3 linked regions of the Homo sapiens genome follow. Changing the gene in region 3 together with the main gene of any one other region gives a genetic interaction. Each region holds a gene or a part of one and is shown on either strand. Other genes may lie near its edges. The genes, in order: PTK6, CKM and CHD1.

Region 1 (3,588 bases), on a different chromosome or scaffold from region 3:
CAGCAGCTCAGGCCTGTAGTCCCGAGGCAGGAGGATTGCTAGAGCCCAGGAGTTCGAGACCAGCCTGGGCAACATAGCAAGACCCTGAATCTCCTAAAAAAAAAAAAATTTAAAATTAGCCAGGTGTGGTGGTGCATTCCTGTAGTCCCAACTATTCAGGAGGCTGAGGCGGGAGGATCACTTGAGCCTGGGAATTCAAGGCTGCAATGAGCTGTGGTCACGCCACTGCGCTCCAGCCTGGGTGACAGAGCAAGACCCTGTCTTCAAAAACAAAAACAGAAACAAAAAACGTTTTCTTACATCTGGAAAACAAAATATTAAAGAACCGTAATGCTTCAGACAAAAGTCATTAAACAGTAAACATCCTCGTCAGTTCATTCATTCCCATGTCATTAATTCTTGTTCTGGTTGATCCTGGGACAGAACTTTCATGGACCTGCCAGGTCCCTCCTTCGAGTTCTGGAAATTTGCACCCAATCCAAGGCTATGACCTGAACCAGAAACCTGTGCTCCAGAGCACCTGTCAGAATCCTTCCCAGGAATCTCTTTGAAGAATAAACAATTTGGGACTAGCTGATTGCAAAGCTTTCAGAAAAAATCAAAGTAAGATAATAACTGTGAATGACCGAAGACTTAAGATAGCCATGGCTCAGGATCTGATGAGAGTTTATTATATTCGTGACACGGTTGGCAAGGAAACTTGGTTATTTCTGTGGCATGCAGCATTTTAATGTAATAACCAAAATTATGACTGATAACATTGCACCAGATTTCTAGGAATAGCATGTGAGATAGGATATATATCATAGGATAACGTATCAGATTTCTAGGAATTTTATAGAGTTTCTGCAACATTCATATCAAAACCAAACCCGTAAATAGAACCTCCAGAAGACTTAGTGTGACTTACTATTTCACACGCTTTCCATCTCATGTAGCACATCGGATAAGCCTGATTAGTCTGACATCTGTCTTTCACAAGGCAGAAGACAAATCCTTTTGAGAAATCCTAGTACCTTTCCAGAAACTCCCAAAATTATTTTTCTTTCTTTCTTTTTTTTTTTTTTTTTTTTGAGATGGAGTCTCGCTCTGTCGCCCAGGCTGGAGTGCAGTGGCGCGATCTCGGCTCACTGCAAGCTCCACCTCCCGGGTTCACACCAGTCTGCTGCCTCAGCCTCCCACGTAGCTGGGACTACAGGCGCCCACCCCCACCACCACACCCAGCTAATTTTTTGTATTTTTTAGTAGAGACGGGGTTTCACCGTGTTAGCCAGGATGGTGTCGATCTCCTGACCTCGTGATCCACCTGCCTCAGCCTCCCAAAGTGCTGGGATTACAGGCATGAGCCACCGTGCCCCGCCTATTCTTCTTTTAAACCAAAAAAACTTTCAGGTGAGTCAAAACCAAAACCAATAAGCTTTTTATGACTTAACCATGGATGAAAGAGACACCTTCAAAATCAGGTGCAAAGGAGGCAGCCCCCCCAGCCCGGAACCACCCCACAGACAGTAGAGAAGGGCCCTTGTCAGCGCAGGAGTGAGGGGCGCTTTCCAGCACTGACCCAGCGACAAAGGTGAAGGTGGGAAAAGCCCCTTGTGGACGTGGACGGTGAAACTGAGCTGGCGCCTCGGGCAGTGATGCTTGGGCTGGCAGAGACCAGGGAGAGAGTTCTCACTGGTCATAAGGCCAAGCTCTCAAGACACAAGACAAACAGGAAAGAAACACCTGCCCCTGGGAGGAAAGAACCCTTGAGCACCAAAACCAAATTTACATGAGCGTCCCGAGCCACGCGAATGACTTTCTCCCACCAAGCTGAACTGGGAAGAGCAGGAACAAGGCGTGTTTGCCTCCCACCCTCAGCCGGGCACTGCAGACAGACAGCCAGAGAGCGGGCTGTGGTCAGAGTCCCCTCTGACCTCTGCTGGCTTCGTGTCAGTCTCCCGGATCTCATCTGCAGGCTCCAGAGCAGGCTGCGTGTCAGCAGCTGAGACCCAAGGCACACACGATGGAGTAAGGAGAGGAGCACACGCGTGTATTGGACGCAGACACTCCACATTTGTGAACCTTTCCTGCACCCATCACCTCAGTAAACCCCAGGGAAGCGCGTGGGCCTTGATCCCAGGTCCAGGCCCTCTGCCCAGGCCCCTCCTCAGCAGGGCCCGGCCATGCCCGCTCCACAGCAGCTCAGGTCGGGTTCTCGTAGCTGGTGAAGCTGGAGAGCCTCTCCCGCAGGGCCTTGAAGCAGGGTCTCTGCTCGGGGTCCCTGCACCAGCATGTCAGCATCAGCTTGTGCACGCTGGGCGGGCACTCCAGAGGGCAGGGCATGCGGTAGCCGGCGTCCACCCTCAGGAAGGCCTCATGGTTGGACATGCCTGCGGCCGACAGGGATGAGAAGAGCTGGGGCCCACCTGCCTACCCTCCCCCAAGAAGCCACACCAGCCATCCACTGCCCCTTCCTGGGGCCTTCCCCGCAGCCTCAGCTGCCATGCCTTGGCGCCACCCAGCACACTGTCCACTGCTAACACCTCCCTCTGGACAGGGCTCCAACAGGCAGCTCCAGGCACCAGCCTGGGTGCTCAGAGAATGGTGCAGGTGTGGAGTTCAGGCGATGGCCCGCGGAGGGCCCTGAAGCCCGTGGGGGAGGCACCCCCCAGCGTCCCTGCCGGCTACCCAGGACCTCCCCCACTCTGCCTCTCATGCCCAGTCAGGGACAGTGGGGACAGTACCTGGGTAGGGCACCTGACCCCTGCTGAACATCTCATGCAGGAGAATCCCAAAGGACCAGACGTCGGATTTGGTGGAGTAATGGCCTCGGGAGAGCGCTTCAGGGGCCGTCCACTTGTAGGGGATATTGTGGTCATGGGAGAGGTAGACGTCCTCCTGCAATCAGCCTGGAGCTGAGTGGGCCGTGGGGGCTGCCTGTGCCCTGCCCCCGAAGCATGGACGGGCACAGCGGCCGCATTGCCCCAGCAGTGGGACGGTGATGACCCCACTGTCTGACCCACGCACGGCCGCTGCAGCTAAGGCCACACTGGGGCCTGACCACCTTCAGGAGCCCAACTTCCCCTGGGATTGCAGGTGTGTGGGGACCGGAGGGCCCGGGGGACAGGGAACTGGGAGGCTCCCAGGCCGTCAGAGGGGCCCAGGGCTGGGCCAGTGAACAAGGCACGTGAACAAGGCAGCGGCTGCGTGGTGGGCCCTGCTGTGCGTGCCATTCAGAATGGGGGCCCCACCGGACTCACGGTGGCTTCCCACCTCCCTGCCCAGCCTGGGCTCCCGAGGGCAGGGGCCGCATCCTGCTCCCAGCCGAGTCCCCAGCTCCACACACAGGAAGCCCCCAGCCCTCCGGCCACGCCCCGGCCACGACCCCAGCCACGCCCTCTGAGGGCCCTACCTTGATAAGCCTGGCTAACCCGAAGTCCCCAACTTTGCAGAGGGTGTTTTCCCCGACGAGGATGTTCCTGGCGGCCAGGTCCCGGTGGATGTAATTCTGCGACTCCAGGTAACACATGCCCTCAGCCACCTGCCAGGCGATGTCCAGCAGCTCCGAAACGGGCAGGACTTTCTCATCAGAGTCTGCAGAGGGGA
Region 2 (3,650 bases), on a different chromosome or scaffold from region 3:
AAAAAAAAAAAAAAAATAGAGACAGGGTGTCACTATGTTGCCCAGGCTGGTCTCAAACTCCTGGGCTCAAACAGTCCTCCTGCCTCAGCCTCCCAACGTGATGGGATTACAGGCATGAGCCACCATGCCTAGCTAAATTTTTAGGCTTTTTTTTTTCTTTTTTTTGGGCAGAGACGGGTTCTTGCTATGTTGCCCAAGCTGGTCGTGAACTCTCCTGGCTTCACGTGATCCTCACACCTCAGCCTCCATAAGTGCTGGGATTACAGGTATAGCCACTGCACCCAGCCTTTCTGCCCATTTCTGTTTCTCTTCCTGTCTCCCTTTCTCCCACTCTCCTTGTCTGTGTCTGACTGCAACTGCGTGTGTCTCTCTCTCCCTGTCTCTCCTGCCTTCTCTGATGCTCCCTTCTGTCTCCCTCTGTGTCTCTGCCTCTCCCCCCACCCTTTTTTTTTTAGGCAGAGTCTCGCTCTGTCACCCAGGCTGAATAGCTAGGATTATAGGTGAACACCAGCATGCCTAGCTAATTTTTGTATTTTTAATAGAGACTGGGTTTCACCGTGTTGGTCAGGCTGGTCTCGAACTCCTGACCTTATGATCCGCCCACCTCAGCCTCCCAAAGTGTTGGGATTACAAGCGTGAGCCACTGTGCCCGGCTATGCCTCTTCCTTTTCTACATGCTTTTGTGCCTTTCTTCTCCCTCTCCCTCTCCTTTGTCTGTCTGTCTCCTTGGTTGTCTGTGTCTCCTTGGCTGTCTCTGTGTCTCTCTGTCCCTCTCTCTTTCCTTTTTTTATTTTCTGAGATAGAATCTTGCTCTGTCACCCAGGCTGGAGTGCAGTGGCATGATCTCAGCTCACTGCAGCCTCCATCTCCTGGGTTCAAGAGATTTTCCTGCCTCCACCTCCTGAGTAGCTGGGATTACAGGCACGCGCCACCATGCCCAGCTAATTTATTTTATTTATTTATTTATTTATTTTTTGAGACGAGTTTCGCCCTTGTTGCCCAGGCTGGAGTGCAATGGCACGATCTCTGCTCACCACAACCTCTGCCTTCCAGGTTCAAGCGATTCTCCTGCCTCAGCCTCCCACGTAGCTGGGATTACAGGCATGTGCCACCACACCCAGCTAATTCTGTATTTTTAGTAGAGACGGGGTTTCACCATGTTGGTCAGGCTGGTCTCAAACTCTCAATCTAAGGTGATCTGCCCGCCTTGGCCTCCCAAAGTGCTGGGATTACAGGCGTGAGCCACCGCCGTGCCCAGCCCTTTTTTTTTTTTTTAAAGACAGAGTTTTGCCATGTTGGCCAGGCTGGTCTTGAACTCCTGACCTCAAGTGATACGCTCGCCTCAGCCTCCCAATGTCCCTCTCTCTTTCCATCTCTCTGCTTCTCCACACCTCTGTGTCTCTCTCTGTCTCTGTATTTCTCTGTCTCCCCCCATTTCTCCTGTGATCTCTCTCCTCCTCACCCCTCGGCCCTCCCCTCCTGCGCAGACACCGACCTTGAGGTTTTCATGGTTGAGGTCAGTCTTGTGCTTGTCAGTGGGTTTGTAGCCCCCGTGGCGATCCGAGATGATGGGGTCAAAGAGTTCCTTGAAAACTTCGTAGGACTCCTCATCACCAGCCACGCAGCCCACGGTCATGATGAAGGGGTGACCTGGAGGGGTGGGGGTGAGGTCAGAGCTGCTTGTCCCCAGCAAACAGGGCGTGGGCTTGTGGGCTCAGTGGAGCCTGTGTGGACATGTGTGTCGGGATGGGGGCGGGTACATTCAATACCTCTGGGTGGGAATTGAGAATCATAAGGGTTGGGCACAGTGGCTCATGCCTGCAATCCCAGCACTTTGGGAGGGTGAGGCGGGTGAATCTCTTGAGGTCAGGAGTGTGAGACCAGCCTGGCCAACAGGGTGAAACCCCATCTCTGCTAAAAATACAAAAATTAGCTGGGTGTGGGGCACACACCTGTAATCCCAGCTACTCAGGAGGCTGAGGCATGAGAATTGCTTGAACCAAGGGAGTGGAGGTTGCAGTGAGCCAAGATCACACCACTGCACTCCAGCCTGGGTGACAGAGCAAGACTCTGTCTCCAAAGGAAAAAAAAAAAAAGAGAGAACACTGAGGACTGGTGGGAACTGGGAGGGAAGGCTGGGAGAGGTCAAGGTGGCTGGGAGGGGTCAAGGTGGGAGAGAAGAAAGAGTGCTGGGGGCGGGGTCAAAGGAGAAAGGGGAGCTTCAGAGGGTACATGGTGCTAAAAGCATCAGCACCTCGGAAACATTAGCACCCAAAGTCATGACATCTTAGCCTGAAATGTTAGGATCTCAGGCTACCACCGTACCACAGAGGGTCAGGAGGGTAAGAGACTTGAAAGACCCTCTTGTTTCCCAGTGGAAAAACAGGGGCCAGGAGAGAGGGGCTTCTCCCCGGCATCACACAGTGAGCTGGATGTGAGGGGCACTAGAGCCTCCCCTCCACTCCCAGCTCTCTTCGCCTTGCAATGTCCTTTGAGAAACAACCATAACATTAATAACATCCCCTGTCAGATTCTTTTTTTTTTTTTTTGAGACAGGGTCTCACTCTGTGGCTGGAGTACAGTGGCGCGATCTCGGCTTACTGCAACCTGCACCTCCCAGGCTCAAGCGATCCTCCCACCGCAGCCTCCTGAGTAGCTTGGACCACAAGCCCTCATCACCACACTTGGCTAATTTTTTTGTATTTTTTGTAGAGACAGGGTCTTGCTATGTTGCTCAGGCTGGTCTCAAACTCCTGGCCTCAAGTGATCCTCCCACCTGGGCCTCCCAAAGTGCTGGGATTACAGGCATGAGCCACTGCACCTGGCCCCCCTGTCAGAGCTTGAGCACTCACTTGGTGCCAGGTGCCACTCTAAGCACTGCACAGCCATTGACTTGTGTTTTCACAACGTGGGCGCCCATTTTTCAGATGAGGAGACTGAGGTTCAGGAGGTGAACCGACCTCCTTGGGGATCTCACATTATTCTCGTGCATGTTTATTGCGTGGTTTGCTGAGTACCTCGCACTGTCCCAAGCCTTTATGTATATTAATGCATTGATTCCCACAACAGCCCCATTTTACAGATGAGAAAACTGAGGCCCCCCCCCCTTCAAGGGTGGTGGGATTGGGGCATGGCCGGCAGCCTCCAGAGCCCCCATGTAGCCCCTTCAGTGCTCCACTGGGGAGGCTCACCTGGGTTGTCCACTCCTGTCTGGATGACATCGTCTACAGTGAAGCCAGATGGAGTCTCCTTGTCCCGCAGCTTCTTGTAGAGTTCAAGGGTCAGTACCTTGGCCATGTGGTTGTTATGTTTGCTGAGGTCGGGGTACTCCTCCTCAGGCTTGTAATTCAGCTTGAACTTGTTGTGGGTGTTACCGAATGGCATGGTGGCGGTGTAGGAGACCTGATGGGCAGGGCAGGAGGGGAAGATTGAAGATTAGCTGGCATCTTTTTTCTTCTTCTTCTTCTTTTTTTTTTTTTGAGACGGAGTCTCGCTCTGTCACCCAGGCTGGAGTGCAGTGGCACGATCTCGGCTCACTGCAAGCTCCACCTCCTGGGTTCACACCATTCTCCCGCCTCAGCCTCCCGAGTAGCTGGGAATACAGGCGCCCGCCACCACGCCGGCTCATTTTTTGTATTTTTAGTAGAGAC
Region 3 (3,650 bases):
TTTTCATTCAGATACACAGTAGATCTTAAATATAGAAAGTTTTTGTTTACTTAAATCTATTTGGAAGTTTATATTTGAGCTAATAATTAAGCTGGAGCATGTATAATAGATTTAAATTGTTTTGACTGTTAGTGAAATTTCTAGATGAAGGCAATAAAAATTTTTTCACTCATCTTTTTCTGGCATTTTGTCTTCTATACCTGTACTGTCCAGTGTGGTAACCACTAGCCACATGTGGCTATTTGAACTCAATTACAAAATATTCAGAATTTACTTAGTCATACTAGATATATTTCAAGTGCTGAATAATCACATGTGGCTAGTGGCTACCATATTGGACAGCACATAGAAAACATTCTATCACTGGAGAAAGTTTTAGACAGTGCTGAGCCAGACATTTGTTGAAATATTACTGTGGCCCTTTTTTATTTTCAGATTGGAGTTTTAATTATCTGTGAAGGAGTTAAGAGTTCTTGCTTGGGTCAAGTGTTTGCAAAGAAGATTCTTTAAATTCTGTAGCTCTCAAATTTTGAGTTATCTGCACATTAGTTTACAATCCATGTAGTTATATGCATTATCATATATAGAAATTAGGAATGTGGGCACTGGAGTCAAACTGTTTGCTTACCCTATTTCTACCTCTTATTAGTTGTGTGAATTAGGGCAAATTACTTAATCTCTGAGGCTCTGATTTTTGCCCCATAAAGAGGGGATTAAACTATTGTTTATCTTATTTAAAGTTCACGGCTGGGCTTGTTGGATCCTGTTTGTAATCCCAGCACTTTGAGAGGCTGAGGAAGGAGGATCACTTGAACTCAAAAGTTGGAGACCAGTTTAGGCAGCATAGTGAGACTTTGTCTGTAATTTATAAAAAATAAAATTTAAAAAAAATTTGAGGATTGAGATGCTTCATGTAAAGGGCTTAAAATATTTTCTGAGATAATGAGCACTGAATATTTGCTTATTGTAACCAGCATGTTTTGTGTAACACAGGATACTATATAAAAAAAACATTAATTACAGTGATGGAGACATGGGGGTGGACAAGAAACAGGAAAGTTTTGGCAATTAGGAAGATTAAGAAAAAATGTTAGATAGAAAACTAAATAGTGGTATTTGTATTTGATCTGAAACTTGGACTTTTCTTTTTCTTTTTTTTTTTTTGAGACAGAGTCTTGCTCTGTCGCCCAGGCTGGAGTGCAGTGGTGTGATCCCGGCTCACTGCAACCTCCACCTCCCAGGCTCAAGTGTTTCTCCTACCTCAGCCTCCGGAGTAGCTGGGATTACAGGCGCTAGCCACCACTCCCAGCTAATTTTTGTATTTTTTTTGTAGAGATGGGGTTTCGCCACATTGGCCAGGCTGGTCTCGAACTCCTGGCCTCAAGTGATCCACCTGCCTCGAGCTCCCAAAGTGCTGAGATTATAGGCATGAGCCACCACGCCAGGCCTGACACTTGGAATTTTCTGACCTTGCTAGTTATACTTTAGTTTATCAGCTTTCATACATACTGTTTGGATAAGCAAGAACATCATAGAGAATAAAATAAGGAACAGTTATGGAAAGCAGCATTATTACTTGAACAAGTATTGGTCTAGGAGTTATACAACCTGAGTTGATGCTATCTCTGCATTAATTAAAACTCATATGATTGCCTCAACTCTAAGGATTGAACTGATATTGAAGTTTCATTTTAATTAATTACAAAGTGCATCGTAAAGTTTCAAACAGTAAAGTTTTACTAGAATCACCAGAGTTGAGGTTTAATTAAAAGACTTTTGAATCTGAGCTTTGATTCAAATCTCTATAGGTATGTTGACTACTGACTATAGTTAAGTAAATAGAAGAGTCATATTGTCCACCCACAATTTTTTTTTTCTTTTCTTTTCTTTTGAGACAGGGCCTCACTCTGTCACCCAGGCTGGAGTACAGTTGTGTAGTCTCAGCTCACTGCAGCCTCTGCCTCCACCTCCTGGGCTCAAACGATTCTCCCACCTCAGCATCCTGAAAGGCGTGCATGCCACCACACTCAGCTAATTTTAAAATTTTTTGTAGAGATGAGGTCTCACCATATTGCCTCAGCTGGTCTTGAACTCATGGGCTCAAGCAGTCCTCCCACCTTGGCCTCCCAAAGTGTTGGGATTACAGGTGTGAGCTGCCACACCCGGCCTCACATTTTCTTATTCATAGTTGGAATGGAATGGTTAGTAGGTAGAAATACCTAGAGGAAACAAAGGAACCAAACTATTCATAAAATAGGAGATAAGACTCGAGAGTAAATCTTCTAGTTGGATATGCAGACAGATCATGTGCTGGTATATTCTGACTACTTACCTGTTCCAATATTTTATATATTTTTCTGCCATATCTAAAGCGAGGAGGAGTAATAAGTCCAATTTGATACTACAGGTGAAAAAAAATTAAACCTTGTGGCCGGGTGCGGTGGCTTACGCCTGTAATCCCAGCACTTTGGGAGGCCGAGCAGGCAGATCACCTGAGGTTGGGAGTTCGAGACCACCTTGACCAACATGGAGAAATCCTGTCTCTACCAAAAATACAAAATGAGCTGGGTGTGGTGGCCTGTAATCCCAGCTGCTCGCGAGGCTGAGGCAGGAGAATTGCTTGAACCCAGGAGGCAGACGGAGGTTGCAGTGAGCCGGAGATTGCGCGATTGCACTCCAGCCTGGGAAACAAGTGAAACTCCGTCTCAAAAAAAAAAAAAAAATTAAACCTTGCGAAATCAAATTTAAGGAATCTTTTACAATGCATACTCATCTTAAATAATTGCAAAGCATATTTCTTTAATTATTCGGAGTTGTTAATTCTGCTATACAGGTTTTGTGTGCTTCTGAAAAGTGTGGTTATCAAGTTATCTAGTTTTTACAACTGCCTTGGAGTTTATCAGGAGAGAGACCTTCTTTTTTGCCTTCATTTTCTTTCTTACCGCTGCTATACTATGCTCTACTGTCATTAACACTCAATTCCCACTCCCTTCCCCAGAAGCTTTTGTCATAAGACATTACAAAGAAGGGAGATTGTGCCTAGTTAAAAGACTGAGGAGGTGAACTTTAGAGGTAGAGGGATTTTCTTGCAAAAAAAACTAAAGTTTCTATAACTATGAATATTAATATAGAGTAATTTTTTTTCTTTTTTTTGAGCCAGAGTCTTGCTCTGTCGCCCAGGCTGCAGTGCAGCGGTATGACCTCGGCTCACTGCATCCTCCGCCTACCGAGTTCAAGCAATTTTCCTGCCTCAGCCTCCCGAGTAGCTGGGACTACAGGCATGCACCACTGCATCCAGCTAATTTTTGTATTTTTAGCAGAGACGGTGTTTCGTCATGTTGGCCAGGCTGGTCTCGAACTCCTGACCTCAGGTGATCTGCCCGCCTTGGCCTCCCAAAGCACTGGGGATTACAGGCATGAGCCACCGTGCCTGGCCCCTAATATAATTAGATTAGAAATATACTTTGTTTCTAAAGTTGATATTCATTGTAAGTAGCTTTTTAAAGTAAATTTTGGTTTTTTAGTGGCTAGAATTCTATAATGTATTTTTGCTTCAAAATTTCCTTTTTCTTTTGTGAAAGTTTATTAAACGGAATAGAATTAAGAAAGAATTCATTTGGCATTTGCAGGTTACAGTTAGCTTTCTACTG

What was found.
Region 1: changes in CHD1 (region 3) and PTK6 together harm fitness more than expected from each alone (negative genetic interaction), as found in Homo sapiens cells (one large-scale study listed by BioGRID).
Region 2: changes in CHD1 (region 3) and CKM together harm fitness more than expected from each alone (negative genetic interaction), as found in Homo sapiens cells (one large-scale study listed by BioGRID).

The regions. Positions count from the first base shown.
Region 1 is NC_000020.11:63,527,352-63,530,939, forward strand, and holds the end of PTK6 (protein-tyrosine kinase 6), read right to left. Parts: intron 3,577-3,588; coding exon 3,395-3,576; intron 2,881-3,394; coding exon 2,727-2,880; intron 2,373-2,726; coding exon 2,185-2,372; 3' UTR 650-2,184; downstream 1-649. UniProt on the Homo sapiens protein: Non-receptor tyrosine-protein kinase implicated in the regulation of a variety of signaling pathways that control the differentiation and maintenance of normal epithelia, as well as tumor growth.
Region 2 is NC_000019.10:45,316,330-45,319,979, forward strand, and holds part of CKM (creatine kinase M-type), read right to left. Parts: intron 3,403-3,650; 5' UTR 3,385-3,402; coding exon 3,192-3,384; intron 1,651-3,191; coding exon 1,496-1,650; intron 1-1,495. UniProt on the Homo sapiens protein: Reversibly catalyzes the transfer of phosphate between ATP and various phosphogens (e.g. creatine phosphate).
Region 3 is NC_000005.10:98,922,492-98,926,141, reverse strand, and holds part of CHD1 (chromodomain-helicase-DNA-binding protein 1), read left to right. Parts: intron 1-3,650. UniProt on the Homo sapiens protein: ATP-dependent chromatin-remodeling factor which functions as substrate recognition component of the transcription regulatory histone acetylation (HAT) complex SAGA. Regulates polymerase II transcription.